3 linked regions of the Homo sapiens genome follow. Changing the gene in region 2 together with the main gene of any one other region gives a genetic interaction. Each region holds a gene or a part of one and is shown on either strand. Other genes may lie near its edges.

What was found.
Region 1: of PEX11A (region 2) and DNM1L, changing one enhances a phenotype caused by changing the other (phenotypic enhancement), as found in Homo sapiens cells (one study listed by BioGRID).
Region 3: of PEX11A (region 2) and FIS1, changing one suppresses a phenotype caused by changing the other (phenotypic suppression), as found in Homo sapiens cells (one study listed by BioGRID).

Annotation. Positions count from the first base shown.
Region 1 is NC_000012.12:32,673,700-32,683,833, reverse strand, and holds the start of DNM1L (dynamin-1-like protein), read right to left. Parts: upstream 4,534-10,134; 5' UTR 4,471-4,533; coding exon 4,369-4,470; intron 1-4,368. UniProt on the Homo sapiens protein: Functions in mitochondrial and peroxisomal division.
Region 2 is NC_000015.10:89,686,297-89,696,206, forward strand, and holds the start of PEX11A (peroxisomal membrane protein 11A), read right to left. Parts: upstream 4,459-9,910; 5' UTR 4,337-4,458; coding exon 4,281-4,336; intron 4,118-4,280; exon of another isoform or gene 4,052-4,117; intron 1,985-4,051; exon of another isoform or gene 1,581-1,984; intron 251-1,580; coding exon 135-250; intron 1-134. UniProt on the Homo sapiens protein: May be involved in peroxisomal proliferation and may regulate peroxisomes division. May mediate binding of coatomer proteins to the peroxisomal membrane. Promotes membrane protrusion and elongation on the peroxisomal surface.
Region 3 is NC_000007.14:101,241,098-101,251,025, reverse strand, and holds the start of FIS1 (mitochondrial fission 1 protein), read left to right. Parts: upstream 1-5,944; 5' UTR 5,945-6,021; coding exon 6,022-6,066; intron 6,067-6,886; coding exon 6,887-7,019; intron 7,020-9,928. UniProt on the Homo sapiens protein: Involved in the fragmentation of the mitochondrial network and its perinuclear clustering. Plays a minor role in the recruitment and association of the fission mediator dynamin-related protein 1 (DNM1L) to the mitochondrial surface and mitochondrial fission.

The sequences.
Region 1 (10,134 bases), on a different chromosome or scaffold from region 2:
CAGTGGCTCATGTCTGTAATTCCAGCACTTTGGGAGGCCAAGGCAAGTGGATCATGAGGTCAGGAGTTCGAGACCAGCCTGACCAACACAGTGAAACCCCATCTCTACTAAAAATACAAAAATTAGCTGGGCGTGGTGGCATGCACCTGTAATCCCAGCTACTCAGGAGGCTGAGGCAGGAGAATCACTTGAACTCGGGAAGCGGAGGTTGCAGTGAGTTGAGATCGCACCACTGCACTCCAGCCTGGACAACAGAGCAAGACTCCATCTCTAAAAAAATAAATAATAAAATAAAATAAAATCCAAATTATTTTTAGGCTAGGTGCAGTGGCTCACACCTATACTCCTAGCACTTTGGGAGGCCAAGGCAAGAGGATCATTTGAGCCCAGGAGTTTGAGACCAGCCTTGGCAACATAGTAAGGCAGCGATTTTAAATTTAAAAAAAAAAATTAGCCAGATGCGTGCCTGTAGTCCCAGCTACTCAGGAGGCTGAGGCAAGAGGACTGCTTGAGCCCAGGAATTTGAGGTTACAGTGAGCTATGGATTATGCCACTGCACTCCAGCCTGGGTGAAAGAGCCAGACCCTAAAAAAATAAAAATAAAAAATCCAAATTGTTTTTCCTTTTACATTTGTCTGAATTACTGAAGATAGAATGCTGAAATCACTGAAATAAAAGGAAAAGTGTAAAGTACATTACTAGGAACACTAAGCCAGAGTCTCAGGTTAATGTCATCTGTATTCGGATACCTATATTGGGTGGTAGTTTAGATTACATACCTGGAGGGCTCCCCTTTCCAATTCTTAATTTAAGAAATAGGATTAAATTTCCCAAGTTGAGTCACAAAAGTTGTTTTAAGTCTTATCTCCTCTACTTGCAAAGTTACACCATGGTCTAAAAGTATCATCAGCCTTCTCTCTCTCCCCACTGTGTCTGTTCATTTCACACAGATGGTCTCTACTAGAAAAAATAAAAGCAATTTATTTAGCTAACACATAAAACATGTGAATGACTGATAGCTGTAAACAGGATTCCCTCACCTCCACTCCTCCAAGTCCCTAGCCCCCAAATGAGTGTTACTTGGGCATTTCATAAAACCAAAGTTTAAAACATTTAGGGGTCAGCAATGGTTGCCTGGGAAGTGATATATTAAAGCAAGAATGCCACCAAAGTCAGCATGGTACTGGATGGTAGTATGCCATAGATTCAACCTCCCCTAATTTTCCTGCTTTTTCCAGTATCATGCATTTTAAAATCCAATGATTCACTAATATGTTTTTCAAATTAGGATCTAGGAACCATCTGTATCAGAATCACCTATGGTCCCTCACCCAACCCAGGCTTATAAAATCAAAATCTCTGGAGACAGGATCCAGGAAACTTAGTTTCAAAGTGATTCTTAGGCCAGGCGGGGTGGTTCACACCTGTAATCCCAGCACTTTGGGAGGCCGAGACGGGTGGATCACCTGAGGTCGGGAGTTGGATACCAGCCTGACCAACATGGAGAAACTCTGTCTCTACTAAAAATACAAAATTAGCCGGGCGTGGTGGTGCATGCCTGTAATCCCAGCTATGTGGGAGGCTGAGGCAGGAGAATCACTTGAAGCCGGGAGGCAGAGGTTGCAGTGAACCAAGATCATGGCACTGCACTCTAGCCTGGGCAACAAGAGCGAAACTCGGTCTCAAAAAAAAAAAACCAAAGTGATTCTTAATACACACTCAAGTCTGAGAATCACTGTTCCAAAAAGTTCAACAAGATAGAAACTGAAGCCATTTAAGGTATGGATAATATGTAGGATAGAGACTACACTTGAAGTTGTTTTTTAATTTTTTTTTGGAAGAATCAGGGTCTCACTCTGTCGCCCAGGCTGGAGTGCCATCGCAGAATCATAGCTCACTGCAGCCTCAAACTCCTGGACTCAGGCAATCTTCCCAAGTAGCTGGGACTACCGGCACACACTACACACCATAGCACCTGGCTAATTTATACCTGTATTCTGAAGACACAATTACTGCCGATAGGTATACTAGGCAGAACTAAGTACAGAACACTTATATGTCTGGAACTCACTCACTACAATTACTTCATTAAATATAAATGTGAGGTATACATATATGTTACACAACACCAAAGAGTAAAAATGGCAGACATCACAAAGTAATGGTATACTAGTATTCAAACCAAGAAGAGATTCTTGTTTCCCCAACACACTACAAAAAAGGCGGGGGCGGGGGGGCGGTGTGGGGAGAAAATAGGGGCGGGGGGGGCGGTGTGGGGAGAAAATAGTTTCTATTCTCTCTCTTTCTGCTGGGGTGCAGTGACATGCACTCCTGCACGCACCACAGCCTCAACCTCCCAGGCTCAGGTGATCCTCCCACCTCAGCCTGCAGAGTAGCTGGGACTACAGGTTCGCACCACCATGCCCAGCTAATTTTCGTATTTTTCGTAAAGATGGAGTTTCCCCACGTTGCCCAGGCTGGTCTTGAACTCCTGGAATCAAGTGATCTGCCTACCTCGGATAATTTCTATTCTGTATTTCTTCTGTACTTGAGTAAAAGACTGATTATCAGCTAATAAGAACTTAGATGGAAATAACCCTCATTAAATCAAGTAGAAAAACTGACCTCTTGAGAAATTTCAAACACCAACATGCAAATATAGCATATAACTGTCAGTACTAGGATGGTTTTTGCACATGTTAATGGCTTTCAGAAGGATGGGATCTTTACTTTTCTCTCCTGCCACTCTGTATTTTGCCAACAGGTTTACTGACCAAAATAAACTCTATTTTGTGTAAAAAGAAAAAAACAACTTATTGATTTTAAACTATTTATGCTGACACACTATATCCCTAATTCTTTTACTTCCTCATGCTTAAAAAGCACTGAGACTCTCTTTTAAAAGTATGTGGAAAGTTTCTAGTGTGCAGCTAGAAGACACTTCTGAATCACTTACTATCAAAGACTTAATTTATATTATCTCTAACTTTTTACAAAAACAGGTTAGTTTTGATGATAAAAGTCCCAGTGTTTTAAAACATTGTGGTTAGAGTGAGCAATATTTACTCAAAATATTTACAGAGCACTTACTATATGTCCCAGACTGAACAAAATTATGTTCAATAAAAAATAATCCTCGTAATTTGTTTGATGCTTCTGAGTCTCCAAACATTACAAATATTGTTACAAATACTAGAATACGTAGGCAAGATTGAGCAGAATCTTTCCCAATCCTATCGCAGACCAAGGAAATGTGTTTCTAAAACAATTTCTATTGCTTCAACTATTTAAAAGCCAAAAAAACAAACAAACAAACAAACGAGTACAGGGTGTCTATAGTTTCCAGTGTTTGGATAGCCACTAATACTTTGAACAGTAAGTTCCTTCTGATAGCACTTATACCCTATACTATGTACCTCCTGGAAAATGATGGGGAAACCGCTCCTTCTCAATAGAAAAGATACTATTAAGAAATGAAAGCACTTAATATCAATATACTAATTTCTAAAATCCGTTTCTCTGAACTCTAATCGAAGTAGCAGAGAAAAGGAAAATTATACTTCTCCTCTGTCACTCTAGAAATAACAGTTATTTTGCCAACATTTCTGCATTCAAAAAAAAATGAGTTAGCTATGAGAAGACCAGAGAAACTGATGCCCAATTTAGGTCACGATCACAAAACTGTGGAAGACAAAAAGCACAGCCTACGCAGAAAAATCGGATATTCCTTCCCAACACCCGCAGAACTCTAGATACACGTTTTGTTTTTCTTTTTTTAAAATGCTGCTTCGGCGTTCTCGAAACCTGGTGGAATTATACTGCAGGAAAACACTGGCGCTCACGCACCGTAGCGTCTCTCAGCCTCAACAGAGCGATTCCAAAACTAACTCCGCAGTCCCTGGGCAAGGCAAGGAGGGAAATAAAACACCCGTCTCACGAAAGCCAACAGTGATGGGAACAGCCAGCCCACCGAGCCCAGCGAGACCCGAGTGCCCCGCGCGTCCCCCAGGTGCCCTTGGAGGCAGCGGCACGCGGACGAGGCCGCGCCCGGTCCCAGCGGACTCCAGTTCCGCCCGCCGGCCCCATCCTTCCCTCTCCTGTCCCCGGGACCCGCCGGGCTAGCCAGGCCCGCCGCGCCGGCTCCGCCCCTGGCCGGGCCCCGGATTCTCCGCCTTGATGCAACGCTGCCCCGGGAGGGCGGGTGCGGCAGAGCCCGGAGAGCCCTGGGGCCCCCAGCAAGGCCCTCCTCCCACAGGCCCCAAAGGCTGGCGCGGGAGTGGGCGCTGGCGCGGGAGTGGGCACTGCCGCAGCACCGACCAGGCCTGCGGCCGGGGTCTGGCCCGAGCGAACGCCGCCTGCTGCTCTCACCTGCGTTCCCACTACGACGATTTGAGGCAGCTGGATGATGTCGGCGCCCACCGTGTTGAAGACGTCCTGGAGCTTGTTTATGACAGGAATTAGCGCCTCCATGACTCTGAAAACACGGGGCCCCAGTGCCCGCCGGCCACGGCAATGAATGGGGCCGGGGCCCACAGTTCGCCTCCTTCCTCCTCTCCTCCGCCCTCTCCTCGGAAGCCGGCACCCATTGGACCGGGCCCGCCGGCTACCTGCCCCCTCCCGGCAGGCCATGCGCTGCGAGGGAGGTGGAGAGGAGCAAGGCCTGCTGGGAGTTGTAGTTCTGGAGCGGAGGAACGCTACTCCCCACAGCTTCCAGGAGGCTGCGCGGCACCGGTGGGCCCTAGCCTGGGACTGGGATGCTGCGCAGGCTCTAGTCAAAGGCTAGGAGCAGGCCGGGAGCGCAGGAGGAAGGCCGTAAATTTATGCCTGTCCTCAAGGCACGATGGATGTGACAGTGCTGGGTGTGAATATGTGTTAAAGGCGCAATGGTGTGTCTCTTAATTATCCAGTGTCACTTCCTTTTATTTATTTTTTATTTATTTATTTTTTTTTTTTTTTTGAGACGGAGTCTCACTCTGTCGCCCAGGCTGGAGTGCAGTGGCGCGATCTCGGCCCACTGCAAATTCCGCCTCCCGGGTTCACGCCATTCTCCTGCCTCAGCCTTCGGAGTAGCTGGGACTACAGGCACCCACCACTACGCCCGGCTAATTTTTTGTATTTTTAGTAGAGACGGGGTTTCACTGTGTTTTCCAGGATGGTCTCGATCTCCGGACCTAGTGATCCACCCGCCTCGGCCTCCCAAAGTGTTGGGATTACAGGCGTGAGCAGTGTGACTTCCTTATGAAGACACTTTCTCTAGAAGGACGGGTTGGAAAGGCTTAAAGAAAAGCTTATGGCCGCAAACAACCAAACTGGGTGCAAAAAAATCTGCACGCTGATACGAGAATGTGTGGGGTGTTATTTTGCAAAAATACAAAAACCAGCCCAGGTTAGAATACGCGGGTTCTCCAGGGGTTTTGTAAACAAACAAACAAACAAACAAAATGTGTGTTCAGGACCGAGCGCGGTGTAATCCCAGCACTTTAGGAAGCAGAAGCAGGAGGATCGCTTGAGCTGGGAGTTCGAGACCAGCCTGGTCAACATAGTGAGACCTCATCTCTACCAAATAAATAAATAAATAAATAAAAAAGCAGGGGTCGGAGCAGCGGGGGGCGGTGTTCATGAAAAAAATCTTAGAGTATTGGAGTTTTACAGGGGAAGAGCTGGGCATTTATTATCAATATTATGTATAAACCTTTATTTGCTGTAGCCTGATTCCTGGCAAAGTAGACATCTGATAACTGCCTTACTCACTCTTTGCTCATACCGTTCTTTTTTTTTTTTGAGACAGAGTCTGACTCTGTCGCCCAGGCTGGAATGCAGTGGCGCAATCTCGGCTCACTGCAGCCTCCTCCTCCCAGGCTGAAGTGATTCTCCTGCCTCAGCCCCCCAAGTAGCTGTTATTACAGGCACCCGCCACCACCCTGGGAAAATTTTTGTATTTTTAGTAGAGACGGGTGGGGGGCGGGGTTTCACCATGTTAGCCAGGCTGGTCTCGAACTCCTGACCTCAAGTGATCCGCCCATCTTGGCCTCCCACAGTCCTGGGATTACAGGCCTGAGCCACCATGCCCGGCCCATACTGTTATATTTCTAAATGTTGTTTTTCTTTTTAGACAGATAGTATCCCTCCTCTACTCCAAACCTCCAAAGGTAAAAGTAAACCTCAAAGTAAAAAGGTGACATTTGAGTAAAGAATTAAAGCAGGTGAGGAGAGGCCAGGCACCGTGGCTCACGCCTGTAATTCCAGCACTTTGGGAGGCCAAGGCAGGCGGATCACTTGAGGTCAGGAGTTCAAGACCAGCCTGACCAACATGGAGAAACCCCGTCTCTACTAAAAATACAAAAATTAACCGGGCGTGGTGGTGCATTCCTGTAATCCCAGCTACTCAGGAGGCTGAGGCAGGAGACGGGCAGATCACTTGAGGTCAGGAGTTCAAGGCCAGCCTGGGCAACACGGCAAAACCCAGTCTCTACAAAAAATACAAAAAAATTAGCTTGCCTGTCGTGGTGGTGCATACCTGTGGCCCCAACTACTTGGGAGGCTGCAGTAGGAGGATCACCTAAGCTTGGGAGGTGGGGACTGCAGTGAACTGTGATCGTGCCACCGCACTCCAGCCTAAGTGACAGAGTGAGGCCCTGTGTCAAAAAAAAAAAAAGAGAAAAGAGAAAAGAAAACATAATAAGAGCACTTTTTCCAGTCTGAGCAAGAGGATAGAGATTCGAGAAAGACTTCCTAGAAGTTACTAAATTTAATCTCCATGAGGACAAGAACCACCAGCAGTAGTGGAAGTTGTGCACTACGCAACTCCAGTGGGTGCCATTCACCTGCTTAGCTGTACACAATGGCTGCGGGGAACATGCTTGATTTGTTCAGCAGGACAAATGGCAGGTGCTTAATAAATATCTGTGAACAAATGGATGAAGTAAGCCAAGACCTAAAGATCCATTAGTGGTGTTTTGGCATCTTGACAGGTTTTGTGAACATCTCCTCTTTGATTATTTTCAAAAAAAAAATTTTTCAGAGATAAAATAAGACAAAAATTTCAGAACTCCAAAAAACAGTTTTATTCCAAGTCTCTTGACTTTCTACCAAAGATAATATTACATAATAGTCAGATATTACCCACTTTGCTTCTCACCCCTCTGTTGATGGAGCTTTTGTTTTCTTCTAAAGAAAACAGAAGGCCGGGCACGGTGGCTCATGCCTGTAATCCCAGTACTTCAGGAGGCCAAGGTGGGCATATCACCTGATGTCGGGAGTTCAAGACCAGCCTGACCAACATGGAGAAACCCCATCTCTACTAAAAATACAAAAATTAGCTGGGCGTGATGGTGCACGCCTGTAATCCCAGCTACTCGGGAGGCTGAGGCAGGAGAATTGCTTGAACCCGGGAGGCAGAGGTTGCGGTGAGCCGAGATTGCACCATTGCATTCCAGCCTTGGCAACAGGAGCAAAACTCCGTCTCAAAAAAAAAAAAAAAAAAAAAGAGCCAGGCCCGGTGGCTCACGCCTGTAATCCCAGCACTTTGGAAGGCCGAGGTGGGCGGGTCACCTGAGGTCAGGAGTTCAAGACCAGCCTGACAAACATGGTGAAACCCCATCTCTACTAAGAATACAAAAAAAAAATTAGCCTGGTGTGGCGCGTGCCTGTAATCCCAGCTACTCGGGAGGCTGAGGCAGGAGAATCGCTTGAACCCGGGAGGCAGAGGTTGCAGTGAGCCGAGATCGCGCCACTGCACTCCAGCCTGGGCGGCAAGAGCAAAACTCCAACTAAAAAAAAAAAAAAAGAAGAAAAAAAACCAATTTCGGCTTTCATGTTTTAAGTTCAGAACACTCTTGTTTGTGGGAAATCAATTTAACTAATAAGTGGCTAAATGGATTTCCCACAAAAAAGAGTCTTTGTGCATCTAAGAATAATGTGTTCTTCAGTGGCTTCCTGTGGGAATCACATTAAACCATTATCGGATATCAAAAGGCCTTTAAAAAAACCTCTTCTCGGCCAGGTGCGGTGCCTCACACCTGTAATCCCAGCACTTTGGGAGGCCGAAGTGGGTGGATCACGAGGTCAGGAGATGGAGACCATCCTGGCTAACACGGTGAAACCCCGTCTCTACTAAAAATACAAAAAATTAGCCAGGCGTGCTGGCACGCGCCTGTAGTCCTAGCTACTGGGGAGGCTGAGGCAGGAGAATTGTTTGAACCTGGGAGGCAGAGGTTGCAGCAAGCCAAGATCGCGCCACTGCACTACAGCCTGGGCAACAGAGTGAGACTCTATCTCAAAAAAAAAAAACAACAACAACAAAAAACACCTCTTCTCCTGCAACCATCCCTCTCTCACCATAGCTTTATGATTTAGGCAGGATAGCTAATTGTAAGGACAGAAATTTAATTCTGAGCTAACTTGCCTCAAAAATGACTGAATGTCTGGGCGCAGTGGCTCTAGCCTGTAATCCAAGCACTTTGGGAGGCCGAGATGGGTGGATCAGTTGGGGTCAGGAGTTCAAGACCAGCCTGGCCAACATGGTGAAACCTCGTCTCTACTAAAAACACAAAAATTAGCTGGGGGTGGTGGTGAGAGCCTGTAATCCCAGCCACTCGGGAGGCTGAGGCAGGAGAATTGCTTGAACCCGGGAGGCGGAAGTTTCAGTGAGCCAAAATCACGTCACCGCATTCCAGCCTGGGTGACACAGTGACACTCCACCTCAAAAAAAAAAATGACTGGAACTAGGAGCTCAGGCAGAATCAGAGCTCTACATCTTATCACTACATCGTCTATTTCATTCTCTCACGCAGTTTACTCCTGTGGAATGAGGTGAGTGTGCTGTGGGGGAGGGTGTAGGGGATCTCATTCAGCAAGCTGTCTCACAGCAGATGAGGCAGAGAGAACTGGGGAGGAACTGAAACCTAGGAACCTGGTTTCTGCCTTGCTTCTCTAGTATATTAGTTCCCTATTGCTGCCTTAACAAATTACCACAATTTTAGTGGCTTAAAACAACAAAAATGTGGCCAGGCGCAATGGCTCACTTCTGTAATCCCAGCACTTTGGGAGGCCGAGGCGGGCGGATCACGAGTTCAGGAGATTGAGACCATCCTGGCTAACATGGTGAAGCCCTGTCTCTAGTAAAAATACAAAAAATTAACCGGGCGTGGTGGCGGGTACCTGTAGTCCCAGCTACCCGGGAGGCCGAGGCAGGAGAATGGCGTGAACCTGGGAGGCAGAGCTTGCAGTGAGCCAAGATCACGCCACTGCACTCCAGCCTGGGCAACACAGTGAGACTCCATGTCAAAAAAAAAAAAAAAGTATTGTTTTACAGTTCTATAGTTCAGTAGTCTCACACAGGTCTCACTGGACTAAAATCAAGGTGTCACCAGGGCTGCAAACCCTCCTAAAGCCTCTAGCAGGGAATTCACCTCCTTGCCTTTGTTAGGGGCCCCCTGCATTCCTTGCTGGTTACCTCCTTCCAACCTCTTCAAAGCCAGCAATGTCGCATCTCTTTAACTCTTCTGCTGTCATCAGGCCTCTGACCCCCAGAAAAGCTTCTCTGTGTTTAAGGGCCCATCATTAGATTGGCCAACCTGGACAACCCAGGATAATATCCCTGTCTCAAGGCCTGTACCCTTAATCACATCTACAGAGTCTCTCCTGAGACATAAAGTTCACAGGCTCCAGGGATTAGGACATGGACTTATTGGAGGGGCCTACTGCACCTGGTTAAGGTGATTGGTCTAGGGATGGACCTGCAGGACCATTTAGAATCCTTCTCTGAGAATTTCCTAACCTGAATTTGAACAAAAATATTTTCTCTCTCTGGTTATAGAACTGTAAGCATGTGAGTCAATGTCTCCAAAGATCATGTTTCCTATCTCATGGAATAAATTGGTTTGCAAGAATAAACTTCTTTATTCACCTTGAAGAACTTCCCCAAATTCAGTAACTTACCCATATATATACATATATATATATATTTTTTTTTTTTTTTGAGACAGAGTCTTGCTCTATCACCCAGGCTGGAGTGCAGTGGTGCAATCTCAGCTCACTGCAAGCTCCGCCTCCTGGGTTCACGCCATTCTCCTACCTCAGCCTCCCGAATAACTGGGACTACAGGCGCCCACCGCCACACCCGGCTAATTTTTT
Region 2 (9,910 bases):
CTTACTGGTCAATTTCACCAATAAACTTGATTGACTAGAAATTAATGACCTAGAAATTACTCCGTGAATTACAGGGTCTGAGGCTGAGGATTCTAAACCAGGAGTCACTGTCCCTCAAGAAACAGGGTACTTACATTTACGACCAGTGCTCACACTGGACTCCAGTTTCTTGAGCTTCATTACCACCTTCTCTTTGCCAGCTTTGGGCTCTAACAAATATCTAAGCAACATGCATGTGTACTGAGTGGCTCTGAAATGGAAAAAAAAAAATTGAGAAGAATGATTTACAAACCAAATAAAACTTAATTCAGGAAGTAAGGGAAAGAGAAACACATGCCTCCAGACAACATTTCCAAGACCATTTCTCATGTAGCAACTCTTACAAAAGCAAAATTCTGCAACAGTCATTCTACAGGAGAGCCAAAGGGTAGAACATGTCATGGAAATTTAACACAAAGGTAATGAAAACAAATTCTGCAATAATGCAGCCAATGTGCCTCCAAAAGGCCTTTTGCTGGCACAGAGAAATGGATATAGTCAAAGTGAGAAACTGTACAAAATCTCCCTCATGTTAAGTCTACAAAGATCCATATTCCTTCTCTTCCCCAGTGTAGATTTCTTTCTTTGTTTTTTTTTTGTTTGTTTTTGATCGAGTCTCGCTCTTTCGCCAGGCTGGAGTGCTGTGGTGTGATCTTGGCTCCACTGCAACCTCTGCCTCCCTGGTTCAAGCGATTCTCCTGTCTCAGCCTCCCGAGTAGCTGGGATTACAGGTGTGTGCCACCACGCCCAGCTAATTTTTGTATTTTTAATAGACACGGGGTTGTGCCATTTTGGTCATGGCTGGTCTCGATCTCCTGACCTCGTGATCTGCCCTACTCAACCTCCCAAAGTGCTGGGATTGCAGGCATAAGCTACTGTGCCTGGCCTGATTTTCAGATTTCTAAAATGAACTTTTCTACCATGTACTTAACCTACCATCTATGTGACAGGACACAAACTCAAACCAGAACCAAATGAAAAGTCCACAGTTTAAAGATTGTTTAATTTTTTATAAACGAAAGGACCAAATACACATCAGTACATAAATTAGTATAAATATGTTTTCATAGTTGTCTTTCAAAACTTATTCGTATTTTACATAAAATACAGGCAGAATCCTGCTTAATAATACTATATATTTAATAAAGTGATTATTGTCATGCTTACAAATAACAATGACTTACTAATATAAATGTAGGAGAAATTTTACATCACATAGTCACACATCCAAATCCATTTGGCAATCTACTAATAAAGTAGGTGCCTGGTTCCTACTGTCTTGTAAGTGCATTTGAATCCCTTTATGCTATAAATATTATTCTCAATAAAAATGCGGTACATTTTCATTTTCTAAAATAGTGAACTTGTTACTAGGAATGAAATAAAAAGAGAAGACTGGAATCATAAACAATCGCTTTCTCTTTTTTAAGTGTCCTTCCTGGTTACAGGACTGGTCATGTCAATGATTCTGCCTTTCTGAGCTTTGGTCTAATAATAAGGATCAGGCCAACAGTAAGACATTACTTTTATTTATTTATTTTTGAAGTGAACATAAACTCGATTTTATTGTCTTCATAATAAAACAAAAGATGATACTTAGAACTGGATCACTTGGCCCTTTCTCTTCTTATCTCCTCCCAGTTCAAAATGCTGGCATCTTTTAATAGCCAGGATTCTCTTAGATCTTCACTGGGCTCAACACACTCAAGCTTTAGCACAAACTTCTTGGTAGTTTTAGACTTTTTCTGGAAAATCGGCTTAGTCTGCCCACCACAGCCACTCTGCTTCCTGTCATAATGCTGCTTTCCCTGGGCATACAGAGAATCCTTGCTCTTCTTGTACTATGTCACTTTGTGGGGTTGGTGCTTGCCACACTTCTTACAGTCTGACAGGTTTTAGGAATGTTCACCGTGTTTGCATGAGCATTATTGGCACAGAAAGCAAGGTATTATTTTATGAATGCCAGTGTGGTCATAAAGGTTATACAGATCATCAAGGAGGTTGGGAAATGAATGCTAGAGATCTCAGATCTTTTGGAATAAACATATCTTAAATTATTATTATTATTATTTTTCGAGACAGAGTCTCGCTCTGTTGCCCAGGCTGGAGGGTAGTGGTGCGTTCTTGGCTCTCTGCAAACTCCGCCTCCCGGATTCAAGCGATTCTCCTGCCTCAGCCTCCTGAGTAGCTGGGATTACAGGCATGTGCCATCACGCCCAGCTAATTTTTGCATATTTAGTAGAGATGGGGTTTCACCATGTTGGCCAGGCTGGTCCCGAACTCCTGACCTCATGATCTGCCCACCTCAGCCTCCCAAAGTGCTGGGACTACAGGTGTGAGTCACTGAACCCGGCCTAAATGATGATGATTATTATTTTTAATGTTTTTATTTTTTTTTTAGAAGGAGTCTCGCTCTGTTGCCCAGGCTGGAGTGCAGTGGCGTGATCTTGGCTCACTGCAAGCTTTGCCTCCTGGGCTCATGCCATTCTCCTGCCTCAGCCTCCTGAGTAGCTGGGACTGCAGGCGCCCACCACAACGCCCAGCTAATTTTTGTATTTTTAGTAGAGACAGGGTTTCACCATGTTAGCCAGGATGGTCTCGATCTCCTGACTTTGTGATCCGCCCACCTCAGCCTCCCAAAGTGCTGGGATTACAGGTGTAAGCCACTGCACCCGGCCTAAATGATTATTTTTTTAACCAACTTCCTTGATAAACCCTGCAGGGTACATTCTAGGTACACTGGAATTACAGGTTTCTATTTAATGAAATTTCTATTTAATGAAGCTTGTATATAAAGTAACCATTTAAAAAACCTATCAAACTAATGAGAAAGCCAGTATAGCTTGGTAGTTAAGTGGGCACTGGAGTCATTTGCGTGGATGTGAATCCCTCAGTTCTGCCATTGTAGTACCTATTAACCTCTTTCTGCTTCAGTTTCTCCATCTGAAGTGGGTAAAATATTTAGAGTATCTACCTCATAGGGTTGTGATGAGGGTTATATAAGTTCATAGTTGCAAAACACTGGGAACAATAGCTGTCATAAAGATGGCTTCCAAAAGCCTCATTATTGGGGCCATTCTAATTGATCTGTTTGTATCAGCACTTGCACACCCAGAAGAGAATGCAGAGCTGTTAAATAAAACTGCAACTGTAAATATTTTTTCATTAAGCAAGAATCAACCAAATCTCTAAAACATCATGAACTAGTACTGTATTCGTATTAAAGATACAATCTCTCAGTTCTTTTCGTTTCTTATGGAACCAAAAGAAAAAGAGACACAATCTCTGTTTAATATTTTCAGTAGCACAGCATGAACCTTAGAGGTGCAGTTAGTTCTTTCTGAGCTTCTCCCCACTGTATTTCCCCCCAATCCAGTTGGTGTGGTCTCATCCCCGCTATATTTTGTTTTACAATTTACAAAACTATTCCACATGCAGTATCTCAATGATACAGCCTGGGTAATAATGGAAGAGAACTTCTGTCTCTCCTCAAACATTTCAAGAGGTATTTGAGACCGGGCGCGGTGGCTCGCACCTGTAATCCCAGCACTTTGGGAAGCCGAGGTGGACAGATCACCTGAGGTCAGGAGTTCGAGACCAGCCTGGCCAACATGGCGAAACCCCCGTCTCTACTAAAAATACAAAAAGTAGCCGGGCGTGGTAGTGCACGCCTGTAATCCCAGCTACTCAGGAGGCTGAGGCAGGAGAATCGCTTGAACCCGGGAGGCAGAGGTTGCAGTGGGCCGAGACCGCGCCACTGCCTGGGCGACAGAGCGAGACTCCGTCTCAAAAGAAAAAAAAAAGAGAGATATTTGAAGTCACACCAAGTGGTTTGCTTCCCTAGCCACAAATACTAATCCAAAGTTTCTCTTTAAAGGAGATCCCTCGGAAGAATGTTGAGTGGAGAGAACCAATCTTTCTGTGCCCGGAGAGCAAAGTTAGGAGGGGAGGAGGATCTGTCAGCCGGTGTCCCGTCGTCGGCGGTCTCGAGGCGGCTAGGGTGCCAGGCACTGGGGCTTTCGTGCACGGGGCTAGGACGGGACGCGGGTGCGTTGGGCCCACTCACGTTGAATTTAGGGTAAGGAGGGGCTCGGATACTAAACTCCCTCCGTAGGAGCTGGCAACGTCCTTCCTGCTTCCATCTACTAGGCTATCACCTCCTTTTTCCCGGGTGCAGGGGAATAGGCACGGGAGCCGAGTTAGGGCGAGAAAGGGGCGGAGGCCGCTGGCACCTGACTCACCTGAAGAGTCGGTCCCGGCCCTGGGTCTGGTTGGTGAAGCGGGTGAAGGCGTCCATGGCTTCTAGCCCAAAGGCCACGAGTCGCACGGGGCTCAGGCGTGGGTCCTCTGGGGCCCGTCGGATCCCCAGGGAACGGTCAGTCCCAGGTTATCCGCTGAGGGGGAGGGGCTGAGTCTCTCCGCCCCAGAGGGGGCGGGCACACTTTCTGTAGAGCAACTTCGCGGACTTCCGGTTCAAGCCGGAAGTTGTGGTTACCAAGGCGACGCAACGCCGCCCGGCCAGGTGAGCAAAACTGATCTTACCTTTGGATGCCGGGGCTCCCCTCGAGTCCCAGGACTCCCCTTTACCTGTAGAGTCTCCTAGAGGAAAGTCTGAGGGGGTCCGTCTCCCCAGACTCGGGCGTTTCCGGATGCCTGACGCCTCCCCGCAGATCTCAGGTTCTCAGGAACCCGGGGTGATATCCCGAATGGTCTCTCCAGCCTCAGAACTCCCCTGAGCTCTTGCTTGGGACGGTGGGGCCTAATCATTTCCCAGCGCCGTGCCTCTTTCCCTTGAGCTACACCAGCTCTATGTCTGGTGAAGGAAGTGGTTAGGTCAGAGATAAGCCAATTTCACAGTGTGAACCTAGCATGGGAGGCGGATGAAGTGAGAAAATGTTCTGCTTGGATTATTGAACATTGAAAGAAGATTGTTACCTGAGGAAATCCTAAAAGAGTCATTATGAGCAAAGTGAAGCAAAAATAGATTGCAATGAAATTGCACCGCTGAACATTCGTTCTGTGCGGCTTGAAGAAAAGGAGCCTTACCCACTCCGTGGCAGTAATTTTATAAAATGTACCCTCTATAACCACAAAATAAGGTCGGCCGGTGCTGTGGCTTACGCCTGTAATCCCAACACTTTGGGAGCCGAGGTGGGCGGATCACCTGCGATCAGGAGTTGGAGACCAGCCTGGCCAACAGGGTGAAACCCCGTCTCTACTAAAAATACAAAAAAAGTAGCCGGGCGTGGTGGTGGGCGCCTGTAATCCCAGCTACTCGGGAGGCTGAGGCAGGAGAATCGCTGGAACCCAGGAGGCGGAGGTGGCAGTGAGCCGAGATTGTGCCACTGCTTTCCAGCCTGGGCGACAGAGCGAGACGCTGTCTCAAAAAAATAAAATAAAATAAAATAAGGTGAACATTTTCGTAATCTTTATTCCCTTGGTCAGGCCAGCTCCTAACATTTGCAGGCCCTGGGTAAGAGTACAAATGGAGTCCAGCACACCGTATGTTTAAATATTTTAGTTATAAATCAAGCAACAAATTGTAAAGTAAAATATAGTCTGTTTTCCTACATTGACAAATAGACCCTCATAATGATGTAGAAGGCCAGGTTCATCTTCAGAATCCCTAGACTCCTTAGAATACCTGGAAACACAGCTGGAATATGGCAGTGTGGGGAGAAATGGCTCCCAGTCTTTTCCCACTTCCCTTTCTTTTCTGGTTTCTGGTGCCCACCTGCATTCCCTGCCAGGAGCCTTGTATACCATCCTGATACTCCAAGCCACATCCAACGTCTGCCCGTACCTCTGCAAGCAGCCATGCCTTTGCCACCTTTTCAGATCGAGGAGTGCTCACATTAGCAGCTGGGTCTGCCCTCAGGTGAAAGCTGAGAAGGGCTCATGCAGGCCATGGTGTCATTTGGGCAGTAAATTCCAGGGGTATTGGTACCCTGAACATGGTCTAGACTCCAGAAGAGGGAAACTAGGCTTTGGGTGAGCATATCTCCTTGGCCCCATGGGTTACTCATTTTTTGTAGAGGAAAGAGCCTCGAAGAGAGCCAGAAGTTTTCTCTAAATACGTGGCCCAGGTCAGGGCAATTCTGCAAGCAATGAGAATTTATTGAGTCCTGGCCATATACCAACCACTGTGCTAAACTCTAGTCGTAGGGTAATAGGTTAACAAGGAACACAGTAAACTGATAAGTACAACACAGAGATATGTTAGATGATAGAGGTGAGCACAGGGTGCTTCTAAACACAGATGTGTATCATCTGTTTTTTGTTTTTGTTTTTGAGACAGAGTTTTGCTCTTATTGCCCAGGCTGGAGTGCAATGGCGCAATGTCAGCTCACTGCACCCTTCGTCTCCCGGGTTCAAGCGATTCTCCTGCTTCAGCCTCCTGAGCTGGGATTACAGGCATGCGCCACCACGCATGGCTGATTTTTTATATTTTTAGTAGAGATGGTGTTTCACCATGCTGGTCAGGCTGGTCTGGAACTCCTGACCTCAGGTGATCCACCTACCTCGAGCTCCCAAAGTTCTGGGATTACAGGTGTGAGCCACCACGCCTGGCCTCATCTGTTTTTTATACCTACAATTCTGCCTTTTTCACAATATCATATAAATTGAATCATATAGTATGTAGCGTTTTCTTTTCTTTTCTGATTTATTTTACTTAGCATAATGCATTTGAGATTATCTATGTTGTGCACATCAGTAGTTTGTAATTTTTTATTCCACAATGTGAATGTATTATAATTCATTATCCATTCACCCACTGAAGTACATTTGTGTTGTCTCTAATTTGAAGCCATTATAAATAAAGCTGCTATAAATATTTAAGTACAGATTTTGATGTGAAACATAAGTTTTAATTTTCCTACTGTAATATGCAGGAATGTGATTGCTGAAACATATGGTATGTTTAACTTTGTAAGAAACTGCCAAACTGTTTTCCAAAGTGGCTATCCTATTTTGTATTACCACTGACAATGCGTGAGAGCTTATCTGTTTGCCTGTTGGTGGACATTGGGTTGTTTCCACTTTGGGGCTCCTACAAATAAAGTTGTAATGACTGTTCGTGTACAAGTCTTTGTATGGACATATGTTTTCAGTTCCCTTCTACCACTCCTAAGAGTGGAATGACTGGATATGATGGTAGATAATGTGTTTAACTGTCCTGCAGGGGACAGGCCTATGCAAACCTACCCCTAAAAGTCTGAGAAAGCTGAGAGGCCAAAGCAAGAGGCTGACATACCCAGTTTCTCAGAAACAAACATTTAATAAATAAATACAATTTAAACAAACAAACAGAAGCCATGTCTCAGGAGCAAGACAAGATGGTGGATCCCTGCCATTATCCACCAGACCCAGGGTTTCTGTGCTATAGAGAAAGGTGCTTCAGAAGGAATGTGTAAGATAATTGCTTAAGGACAGAATTTATGGCAAGAATGATAACATCAAGGTTGTTTTGACCTAAGGGCAATATTTACAGTAAGTGGTGCTCTTACACAAGGAATGAGTCAAATGGAAATCTTAGAGGTTTTTCTGGAACTGGGGATAATCAGAAGTTAACATGGAGGATTAGCATCTAAGATGGAGTTGCTTTGGCCTCCACATTAGCGTTTTAAGAAATTGCCAAACTGTTTTCCAAACCAGTTGTACTATTTTGGTTTCCCAATAGTGTGTATGAGCATTCTTATTGTACATCTTCAACAACACTTTCATGGTCTATCTTTTTAACTTTAGGCATTTTAATATACGTGTAGTGGTATCTCATGATTTTAATTTGCATTTCACAAATGACTAATGATGCTGAACATCTTTTTATGAGTCTATCTGCCATCTGTATATCTTCTTTGGTTAAGTATCTGTACAAATTTTTTGCACATATTTAAAAATTGTTGGGTTATTTCTTTTTTTTTTTTTTTTTTTTGAGATGGAGTCTCGCTCTGTCGCCCAGGCTGGAGTGCAGTGGCACGATCTCGGCTCACTGGTTTCACACCATTCTCCTGCCTCAGCCCCCCGAGTAGCTGGGACTACAGGTGCCCACCGCCATGCCCAGCTAATTTTTTGTATTTTTTAGTAGACATGGGGTTTCACCATGTTACCCAGGATGGTCTCGCTCTCCTGACCTCATGATCTGCCCGCCTTGGCCTCCCAAAGTGCTGGGATTACAGGCGTGAGCCACTGCACCCGGCCGGGTTACTTCTTTTATTACTGAGTTTTGAGAGTTTTAAAAATACTCTGGACAAAAGTACTTTATCAGATAAGTGACTTGCACATATATTTTCTCCCCATCTGAGGATTACCTTTTATTCTCTTAACAGTGTGTTTTGAAGAAACACAAGTTTATTTTTGAAAAGGTTTAAATGACCAGTTTGTTCTTTTTAGGTTATACTTTAATGTCATATCTAGGAAATCTTTGTCTAAGAGAAGATTGCCAAAGTTTTCTTCTAGAAGTTTTATAGTTTTCAGTTTTACATTTAGGTGTATGATTTTACTTTGAGTTAATTTTTGCATATGGTGCAAGGTATGGATCGGCATTCATTTTTTTCCTATATAGATATCTAATTGCTCCAGCATTATTTGCTGAAAAGAATATCCTTTTTCCACCGAATTGTCTTTGTGCTTGTGTCAAAAATAAGTTCTCCATATATGTTTGCATCTAATTTAGGACTCCCTATTTGATTTCATTGATCTGTTTGTTTATTTTGATACCAATACCACACTGTCTTGAATATTGTAACTTTGTGATAAGTCTTGAAATTAAGTAGTGTTAGTCCTCCAATTATGAGTTGTAAAGTTAGCTTCTTAATTTCTGGAAAAAAAAAAGCCACCTGGGATTATCATAGGGATTGTGTTGAATTTGTACATGAATTTGAAAAGAATTGACATTTTAACAAAATTGAGTCTTCCAACTCATAAATAAGGTATCACACTCTCCATTTATTTAGGTCTTCTTTAATTTCTGTCAGCAATATTTTATAGTTTTCAGTATGTGGGTGGGTGTTTTTTAGAGAGGGAGTTTCGCTGTATTGCCCAAACTGGAGTGCAGCAACATGATCATAGCTCACTGCAACCTTGAACTCCTGGACTCAAAGCAATCCTCTCACCTCAGCCTGCTGAGCTGCTAGAATTACAGGTGCAAGCCACCTTGCCTAGCCCAGGATACAGGTTTTATATATCTTTTGTCAGATTTATCCCTAAGTAGTTCATGTTTTTGATACTGTTGTAAATGGTATTTTTATTTCAATGTTTGGTTTGTTATTGCCAGTACATAGAAATACAATCAGTTTTTGTATATTGAACTTGTATCTTACCACCTTGCTCTCCTCATTTATTAGTTCTAGAAAATGTTTTTGTAGATTTCCTCAGATTTCCTATATAAGCATATCATCTGGAGATAAAGACAGCTTTATGTTTTTCTTTCCACTGATGAAGTAGTTCCATCACTCCAAAAAACTCCCTCATGCTGTCCTTTTTTTTTTTTTTTTTTTTTGAGACAGAGCCTCACTCCGTCACCCAGGCTGGAGTGCAATGGCACAATCTCAGCTCACTGCAACCTTTGCCTCCCAGATTCAAGCGATTATTGGTCCTCAGCCTCCTGAGTAGCTGGAATTACAGGCACACACCACCACACCCAGCTTATTTTTGTATTTTTAGTAGAGGTGGGGTTTTGCCATGTTGCCCAGGCTGGTCTTGAACTCCTGACCTCAAGTGATTCACCCGCCTTGGCCCCCCAAAGTGCTGAGATTACAGACATGAGCCACCATGCCCAGCCATGCTGTCCTTTTTGAATAACACCCTTCCCTGCTTATAACTCTTGACAAACACTGATCTGTTCCCCATTACTCAGTTTGCATTTTTGAGA
Region 3 (9,928 bases), on a different chromosome or scaffold from region 2:
CCATGTTGGCCAGGCTAGTCTGGAACTCCGGACCTCAGGTGATCCGCCCACCTCAGCCTCCCAAAGTGCTGGGATTACAGGCATGAACCACCATGCCCGGCTGGTAGGTTCTTTTTGTAAGATTTTTATGTATTTATTTTTAACTTAGTGTTGGGGTCTCGCTGTGTTGCCCAGGCTGGTCTCGAACTTCTGAGCTCAAGCAATCCTCCCACCTCAGCCTCCTAAACATAGTAGGTTCTTAAATGTTTTGATGGGTGAATGAATTAATTGATAGTTGACAGGACTTTCTAACTGGATAGCAGATGGAACTGGGAAGTAGAGGAGACAGATTACTGAAAATTGGAAGAACGCAAATATGGAATCCTGTTCAGCGGGTGTTTGCTGAGCCCTTCTTGTGCAAAAGGCTGAAGCGGGAAGTGCAAAATAGGCCCCAGCTGCTGGTGTACTCCAGGGAGGGGTCCAGAGCCCAGAATCTGCCCATATACACCAGTTCTAGGTCTTAGTCTCACCAACCTAAGATGTCAGTTTCCTTTCTGCTCACCCACCTGTCTGAATTTGAGAAGTAGATACTTCTTTGTTTTGTTTTGAGTATTACTGTCCACAGGCATAGAATCCATGTGACTGTGACTTTAAGGCTGTATATTATTCCATTATATTGATGTATTATCATTTAATAAAACCATTCCCTGGCATTTTTGTTGTTTGTTTACCTTCACAGATAATGCAGGAATGAATATCTTCATGTCTTCCTTTTCTTCCATTTTTTTTCTTTCATCATTTTCCCAGAGGAGTAATTTTTGTTCTGTTTTGTTTTGTGTTGTTTTCTTTTCTTTTTTTTGAGACAGCGTTTCGCTCTTGTTGCCCAGGCTGGAGTGCAATGGCGCAATCTCGGCTCACCACAACCTCCGCCTCTCAGGTTCAAGTGATTCTTCTGCCTCAGCCTCCCAAGTAGCTGGGATTATACGCATGCACCACCATGCCCGGCTAATTTTGTATCTTTAATAGAGACGGGGTTTCTCCATGTTGGTCAGGCTGGTCTCTAAGTCCCAACCTCAGGTGATCCGCCCGCCTCGGCCTCCCAAAGTGCTGGGATTACAGGCGTGAGCCACTGCGCCTGCCTTGTTTTGTTTTGTTTTGACAGCATCTCGCTCTGTCGCCCAGGCTGGAGTGCAGTGGTGCAATCTCGGCTCACTGCAGCCTCCACCTCCCAGGTTCAAGCGATTTTCCTGCCTCAGCCTCCCGAGTAGCTGAGAGTACAGGCACGTTCCACCTTGCCTGGCTAATGTTTGTATTTTTAGTAGAGACAGGGTTTTACCATATTGGCCAGGCTGGTCTCGAACTCCTGACCTCAAATGATCCACCCATCTCGGCCTCCCAAAGTGCTGGGATTACAGGTGTGAGCTACTGTGCCCAGCCAAGTTAAGGGCTTTTTATGTAAGCTTGATCACGTAGACATGATCGATTATTAACTCAATCTCCAGCTCCTCTCTCTTCCCCAAAGGATGAGGGGGGAGGCTAAAAGTTCAAGCTTAAGAGGCTAAACTTCAAATCCTGGCTTGGTCTTCCTGGTGACCAGCCCTCATCCTGATGCTGTCCAGGAGCCCAGCGAGTCACTTCATTAGAAGAAAAGGCACTCCTGTCACTCAGGATGTTGCAAGGGATTTTGGAGCTCTGTGTAAGATGCTCTTATTGGCCGGGCGCCGTGGCTGACACCTGTAATCCCAGGACTTTGAGAGGCCAAGGCGGGCGGATTGCTTGAGCTCAGGAGTTCCAGACCAGCCTGGGCAACAAAACAGCCTGAACAACATGGCAAAACCCCGTCTCTACAAAAAAATACAAAAATTAGCCGGGTGTAGTGGTGTGTGCCTGTGGTCCCAGCTACTTGGGAGGCCAAGGTGGGAGAATCGCCTGACTTGGGAGGTCGAGGCTGCAGTGAGCCAGGATCCCGCCACTGCAGTCAAAGCTGGGGTCAGAGTGAGACGCTGTCTCCAAAAAAAAAAAAAAAAAGATGCTCTTATTACTTCTATCACTCAGGAAATTACAAGGATTTTAGGACCTTTGTGTTGGGAACCAGGGCAGAGACCAAATATATATATGTGTGTGTATGTATATATGTATATATATATATATATATTTTTTTTTTTTGAGACAGAGTTCGTTCTTATTGCCCCGGCTGGAGTGCAATGGCGCGATCTGTGCTCACCGCAACCTCCACCTCCTGGGTTCTAGCGATTCTCCTGCCTCAGCCTCCTCAATAGCTGAGATTACAGGTGCTTGTCACCACGCCCGGCTAATTTTTATATTTTTAGTAGAGACGGGTTTCACCATGTTGGTCAGGCTGGTCTCGAACTCCCGCCCTCAGGTGATCTGCCCGCCTCGGCCTCCCAAACTGCTGGGATTACAGGCATGAGCCACCGGGCCTGGCCCCAAATATATAGGTCTTATTATGTCACAGTGCTTTTATTTGTTGAGTTATTTTTTTCTGTTTTCCCCATGAAAATGTAAGCTCCACCTTGGCTTACACTGTGCCAGGCTACTATTTGTAGGCAACTAATTGAGCACCTACTACACAGCAGGAGCTCAATTAGTATTTCTTGAATGAATTAAATCATGAGGGAATGAATGAGCCAAATAAGCAATGGAGGAGGAGACAGATGTTCCAAACAGAGAGGACTGCCTGTGTAGCGGAGCTGTGGCCACCAGGGGTTTGAGAGCTGAAGGAAGGCCTATAGGGCCAGTGTACATAGTACATACCAGGAGAGGTAGTGATAGATGAGGAAGAGAATTAAGCATGGCTAGATCCTAACGGACCTTGAAGGCTGTGTTTGTTTTAAGGGCAATGAGAAGGCATGAAAGGGTTTTTTTTTCAGACGGAGTCTCGCTCTGTCACCCATGCTGGAGTGCAGTGGCGTGATCTCGGCTCACTGCAAGCTCCACCTCCCGGGTTCACGCCATTCTCCTGCCTCAGCCTCCCGAGTAGCTGGGACTACAGGCGCCCGCCACCACGCCCGGCTAATTTCTTTTTTGTATTTTTGGTAGAGACGGGGTTTCACCATGTTAGCCAGGATGGTCTCGATCTCCTGACCTCGTGATCTGCCCGCCTCGGCCTCCCAAAGTGCTGGGATTACAGGCGTGAGCCACCGCGCTCAGCCATTGGGTGTAAAATTAACAGGGACTACTTTCTATCACTATGTCGGAGGTGGATGACTATGCTAACTAGACTTGAAAAGCTACAGACTACGGATCTCTTCATTGGCACACAACTGAGCCACCTGAGTAAATCACTCTCCCTTCATCCCTTGTTGACATTCAGCAAATCCTGATGGTGCTTCTGCCATGCACCAGGCCTCTACCAAGGGCTGCAGCAAATATAAACATGACTGTGGTTCAGGCTGCCCCCCAAAAAGGAGCCTCCTAATAGAAGGAGTGCCCCCTTCATCTTCCTGTGTCCCCTGCCCTGCCAGTGTTTGCCTCCCGTCTTCAGTCCTGTTTTCAGTCACCTGCTTCATATCGTGTCCATCTTTTTTATTTTTTATTTTTTTAGAGATGGAGTTTCGCTCTCGTTACCCAGGTTGAAGTGCAGTGATGGGATCTCGGCTCACTGCAGCCTCCACCACCTGGGTTCAAGCGATTCTCCTGCCTCAGCCTCCCAAGTAACTGGGATTACAGGCACCCACCACCATACCCGGCTAATTTTTTTTGTGTGCATATATATATATATATATTTTTTTTTTAATTAAAAAGTAAACTTTAATGTTGAAAATGCAAACTTGGGGAGGGCAGAAAGATCACATACAAGGCTGTCACTTCACACTTGGAAGGTTGCACAGCGGCTGGGCAGAGGTGCATTTTTTGTATTTTTAGTAAAGATGGGATTTCATCATGTTGGCCAGGCTGGTCTCGAACTCCTGACCTCAGGTGATCCACCCGCTTTGGCCTCCCAAACTGCTGGGAATACAGGCGTGAGCCACTGCACTCAGCCCTAGTGTCCTTTGTGCCACCCCAAGGCCCAGGCAAAATTAGGTGCTGTATACTTCTCTGAATGAACATGAAGTTTTCCCCTTGAGGCTTATGCTAGTGGGCAGCCAGTTCCCCAACCTGGGGATTCTCTCAAGGCTTACAGAGCTTACTGTATCAGTCATTTCAACCATCCACGCCAAATAGGGAAGAATAACTCTTGTCTTTCTAACTCACGAGACTATTATGAGGAGAAAAATATTAGAGGCTTGGCTGGGCACGGTGGCTCACGCCTGTAATCCCAGCACTTTGGGAGGCCGAGGCAGTCTGATCACCTGAGGTCAAGAGTTTCAGACCAGCCTAGCTGACATGGTAAAACCCCATCTCTGCTAAAAATACAAAAATTAGCTGGGTGTGATGGCCGGCGCCTGTAATCCCAGCTACTTGGGAGGCTGAAGCAAGAGAATCGCTTGAACCCAGGAGGCGGAGGTTGCAGTGAGCCGAGATTGTGCCACTGCGCTCCAGCCTGGGTGACAGAGCGAGAAACTGTCTCGGAAAAAAAAAACAAAAAACAAAAAACAACCTGGGTGTGGTGGTGCACACCTGTAGTCCCAGCTTCTTGGGAGACTAAGGCAGGAGGATTACAGGAGCTCAGGAGGTCAAGGCTGCAGTAAGCTCTGATTGTGCCGCTGCATGCACTCCAGCCTGGGCCACAGAATGAGACCCTGTCTCTAAAAAATAATAAAAATTAAAGGGGCTTTGCAAACGCGGAAGGTGTCTGGATGATTATCCCCTGCATGTGCAGTGCCTTGTTTACAATTAATTTGCTTTTTCCGTGTTTATTCAACAAATATTTATTGAGCCCTCACTCTCTGCCAAGCCCTGTGCTAGATGCTGGATAAGCAAGGTAAGTCTCTGCCCTCAAGGAACTTACACTCCAATGTGACTCAAGGGGAAAAGAATTTGAAAGTTGCTACTTACCCAGTCCCCTCACTGCACAGAAACTGAAGCCAGAGGTGTCCACACCTTTCTCCTTCCCATGCTCTGATAGCTCCTCACTGCTAAGCTCCCCATTGCCCGTGACCCCATGTGGCAGGTTTCCCGCCTGGGGTGCACTCCCAAAATGGTTTATGTAAATAATATTGAAAATTGGACCTTCTCTGCCAATAATGGGGCCGTTGCTTTTTGAAAAACTTCCCGTTGATAGTGTCTCCTATGACTACCCCTGTGTGGCTGTGTGGTTTACAGATCCAGTTGCCTCTGCTCTTGCATTGTGAGAGTCAGCAGAGGCCCAAGAAACCCCGATACTAGTTTGCTGCTGTTGGTGGGTTTTTTGAGACAAGGTCTCTGTCGCTCAAGCTGGAGTGCAGTGGCGCGATAACTCACTGCAGCCTCGAACTCCCGGACTCAAGCGATCCTCCTGCCTCAGCCGCCCCAGTAGCTGGGAGTACAGGTGCACGCCACCACGCCGGTTGATTTTTTTAAAAATTTTGTAGAGATAGGGTCTCGCTATGTTGCTCAGGCTGGTCTTGAACTCCTGGCCTCCAGCGATCTTCCCGCCGCGGCCTCCCAAGTTGTTGGGCTTCGGACGTGAGCTACGCGCCGGGCTCCCGGTTCTAGTTAAGATTTTGTTGCAGGCGATGAATAGTCACGTGGCCTCCAAGGTCCTAGATTTCTGAGGGGCGTCAGCTTGGCACCCTAATGTACTGTGATCTCTGGTCAGCTACCCACCCTCTTTTTGCTGTTTTCATCCTGGGGGCTAACCGCCAAGACATGGCCTCCAGTTTCCCTAGGGAAGCCTCCACAGAGGAAGGCACCGGCTGAGGCACCTGGGAAGACCAACCTGGGGAAGGTCTCCCTGCGCGCAGTCTGCGGGCTGGAGGGACCGGCCGAGCCTGCGCACTAGCGCCCCGCCGGCGCTGCTGAACTGAGAGGAAGGGGCGGGGCGTCGCCAGGTCGTGCCAGCATCCGCCGGACGCCGGAAGTGGTTCTCCGCCCCTGCCACTGGGCCATGGAGACTGTGGCACAGTAGACTGTAGTGTGAGGCTCGCGGGGGCAGTGGCCATGGAGGCCGTGCTGAACGAGCTGGTGTCTGTGGAGGACCTGCTGGTGAGGCCTGGCCCGGACAGAGGGAAAGGGAAGGTCGGAGGGCGGGTCCTGAGGAGAGTCAGGTAGGGGCCGAACCCTCCTCCCGGCATCGGCTTGGCCGAGGGAAGCCGAACTACGGCTCCCGGCAGCCTCCACAGCGCCTGGCTCCTGCCCGGAGGGCCTGCTATGCCGCAGAGGCTCCTGGGAGTTGTAGTGTCCTGAGCCCCCCACACCTCAGACTACGGGCCTGGAGCCCGACCGTGGTTAGACTGACGGGATCTGGGATCATGCAGGAGCTGTGAGCTCAGGGCGCTCCTCCAGCGGTGGAGGAATACAGTGACCATCATAAGGTGTCACCTATTACTGCGTCCGGCACGGTGCTAAGGCATCGCATGCCAGATCTCAGTCTTTGTAGCTCTAGGAGGTAGGCACTACTTCTATTCCTGGACAATAAAAGGTCCAGGCCCGGCAGGGTGGGGCAGGATGGGGCCAGCAGCCTCAAATGAGGACCGCGTGGGCTGTTGAGCAGTTCTGACAGCGTGTTTACTGTTCGGCCGCCGGGGTCAGCTGCTCCGGGAGCGGTGCCTGGAGCTGCCACCAGGTGGCATCTCCGCTCGGTACCGCCGCGGGGAGGGGAGACCGGGGGCCTCTGTCCCAAGAGCTGGCCCGCAGGCCCGGAGGAGCCGAAAGCCTGGGTCCCGGGCATGGAGATAGCAGAAGCTGGGGTGCCAGATACCGAGACCTGCGAGGGAAAGGGGCAGAGCCAGGGAGATGGCATGTCCAGATAGAGAATGGTTGACGCCCTACATTTCTAAATGATTCCTTTCCTCCCCTGTGGCAGAAGTTTGAAAAGAAATTTCAGTCTGAGAAGGCAGCAGGCTCGGTGTCCAAGAGCACGCAGTTTGAGTACGCCTGGTGCCTGGTGCGGAGCAAGTACAATGATGACATCCGTAAAGGCATCGTGCTGCTCGAGGGTGAGGCGCTGTACTCTCCCTTTCCCGCTGCCATCTGGGCTGCTCTGCGATGTGGGCCCCGTAGTCCAGGCACCTCTGAGTTGTCTCCGGTAGATTTACTGCACCAAGGGCTATACTTAGCTTGACGTCTCCCAGTGAACTTTTGGCTACTTACCGCCCACCATTGTTTTGCCAGACAGAGTGTAGCATGTCAGTTCCCCCAGGACTGTCTTGATCTGGGAAAGTGACTTGAGGTCACCCAACTAATCAGTTAATGGCTGAATTGGGACTAGAAGCTCCTGTTTTGTGAGACCTAGGCCCATGCCCTTCCCCCCAACACCACCACCGTGTTGCTTAGCAGCTATTGAGAATCTTTTGTGGCATGGAAGAGGTACAGAGGACTGTCCTACAAAATTGTGAGCAGATAGTGCTTTTTGTTTTTTGTTTTTGTTTGAGACGGAGTCTTGCTCTGTCCCCCAGGCTGGAGTACAGTGGCGCTGTCTCAGCTCACTGCAACCACCACCTCCCGGTTCAAGCAATTCTCCTGCATCAACATCCTGAGTAGCTGGGATTACAGGTGCCCACTACCACGCCCAGCTAATTTTTGTATTTTTTGTAGAGATAGGGTTTCACCATGTTGGTCAGGCTGGTCTCTAACTCCTGACCTCAGGTGATCTGCCCACCTCGGCCTCCCACAGTGTTGGGATTACAGGTGTGAGCCACCTCGTCCAGCCAGATAGTGCTTTTTGGATGGGAACCCTATTTCCTATTGGTTTTAGGTGGGTCATCATTTGTCAGAGGCCACAATACTTAACCACTTAGTTTCTCTGTAGCTCCTTGTGTTCAAATAATCATTTATAAGCACACAGTCAGTGTACAGCCATCCCTCTGTAGCCATGGGGGATTGGTTCTAGGAACCCCACCCCCACAGATACCAATAGCCACCCAAGTCCCGTATATAAAATCGCATGGTATTTACATGTAACCTGTGCACCTTCTCCCATATACTTTAAATCATCTGTAGATTACTTATAATACCAAATACAATGTAAATGCTGTGTAAATAGTATACTGTATTGTTTAGGGAATAATGGCAAGAAAAAAAGGTCTGTTCATGTTCAATACAGATGCAACTATCTTTTTTTTTTTTCTGAGTATTTTTGATCCATGGTTCGTTGAATCTATGAATACAGAATGCTGACTGTGTTAGCAAAGGATGCCTATTGAAAATCTATAAAAATGGCCAGGCACAGTGGCTCACACCTGTAATCCCAGCACCTTGGGAGGCCAGGGCAGGCGGATCACGAGGTCAGGGGTTCGAGACCAGCCTAATCAACATGGTGAAACCCTGTCTCTACTAAAAATACAAAAATTAGCTGGGCCTGGTGGCGCACACCTTTAATCCCAGCTACGCAGTAGGCTGAGGCAGGAGAATCACTTGAACTCGGGAGACAGAGGTTGCAGTGAGCCAAGATCACGCCATTGCACTCCAGCCTGGGCAACACAGTGAGACTCCGTCTCAAAAAAAAAAAAAAAAAAACTATAAAAATAAGACTCTTTCTTAAAAGATACAAATAATTTTACCCTATGTTTGTCTACTTCGGCAATTCAGATTTTCAGGTTTATTCTACAGCAGGGTGTAGGTGTAGAAGAAACAGCCTCTCTAAGTGTTGCCAGTCTAGTTGAGAAAACAGTACAGACAGGAAGATTTATAAACACCTGCAGAATTATTTAGCAACAAATTCTAGTGCATACAGTACAGTTATCCTCTGGGAAGTCTCTGAATTAAGAAAGTCAGGTGGGGCCAGGCACTGTGGCTCATGCCTGTAATCTCAGCACTTTGGGAGGCCAAGGCCAGAGGATGGCTTGAAGTCAGGAATTTGAGACCACCTGGCCTGTCTGTGTAACAAAGATGTTTAAATTAGCCAGGCATGGTGGTGTGTGCTTATAGTCCCAGCTACTTGGGAGGCTGAGGCAGGAGGATCACTGACCCCAGGAGTTTGAGGCTGCAGTGAGCCATGGACATGCTACTGTGCTCCAGACTGGAGTGACAGAGCGAGACCCTGTCTCCGTTTTTTGTTTTTTTTTTCCCGAGACTGAGTGTGCAATGGTGCAATCTTGGCTCACCGCAACCTCTGCCTACCGCATTCAAGCAATTCTGCTGCCCCAGCCTCCCGAACAGCTGGGATTACAGGCATGTGCCAACACGCCCGGCTAATTTTGTATTTTTAGTAGAGACGGGGTTTCTCCATGTTGGTCAGGCTGGTCTCAAACTCCCGACCTCAGGTGATCCGCCCGGCTCAGCTTCCCAAAGTGCTGGGATTATAGTCATGAGCTACGGCTCACGGCCCACCCTGTCTCTTTAAAAAAAAAAAAAAAAAAAAAAAAAAGGAAGGAAGACAAAGTCAGGTGGGGTCTTCGGGGAAGGCTGATTGAAGGTGAGTTTTGAGCTGATTTTTTTAAAGGGGGAGGGAGTCCTAACTTTTTTTTTTTTAAACAATAATTGTACAGCAGGCAGTTTAGTTAAAACCACAACGGCAGCACTTTGGGAGGCCAGGGCAGGCAGATCACTTGAGGTCAGGAGTTTGAGACCAGCCTGGCCAACATGGTGAAACTCCATCTCTACTGAAAATACAAAAATTAGCCAGGCGTGGTGGCGGGCACCTGTAATTCCAGCTGCTCGGGAAACCGAGGCAGGAGAATCGCTTGAACCCAGGAGGCGAAGGTTGCAGTGAGCCGAGATCACGCCATTGCACCGCAGCCTGGGCGACGAGTGAAACTCCGTCTGAAAAAAAATACCACAGCAGATGCCAAAACTGAGTCACGCTGCCTTTGGCTTCTCCAGGGCCCCGATTTCCTCATTTCAGTTGGATGGACCAGTTGACTGTAATACTGATAAAAGGCATGTTCTGTCACTGGGGTGTTGGCAC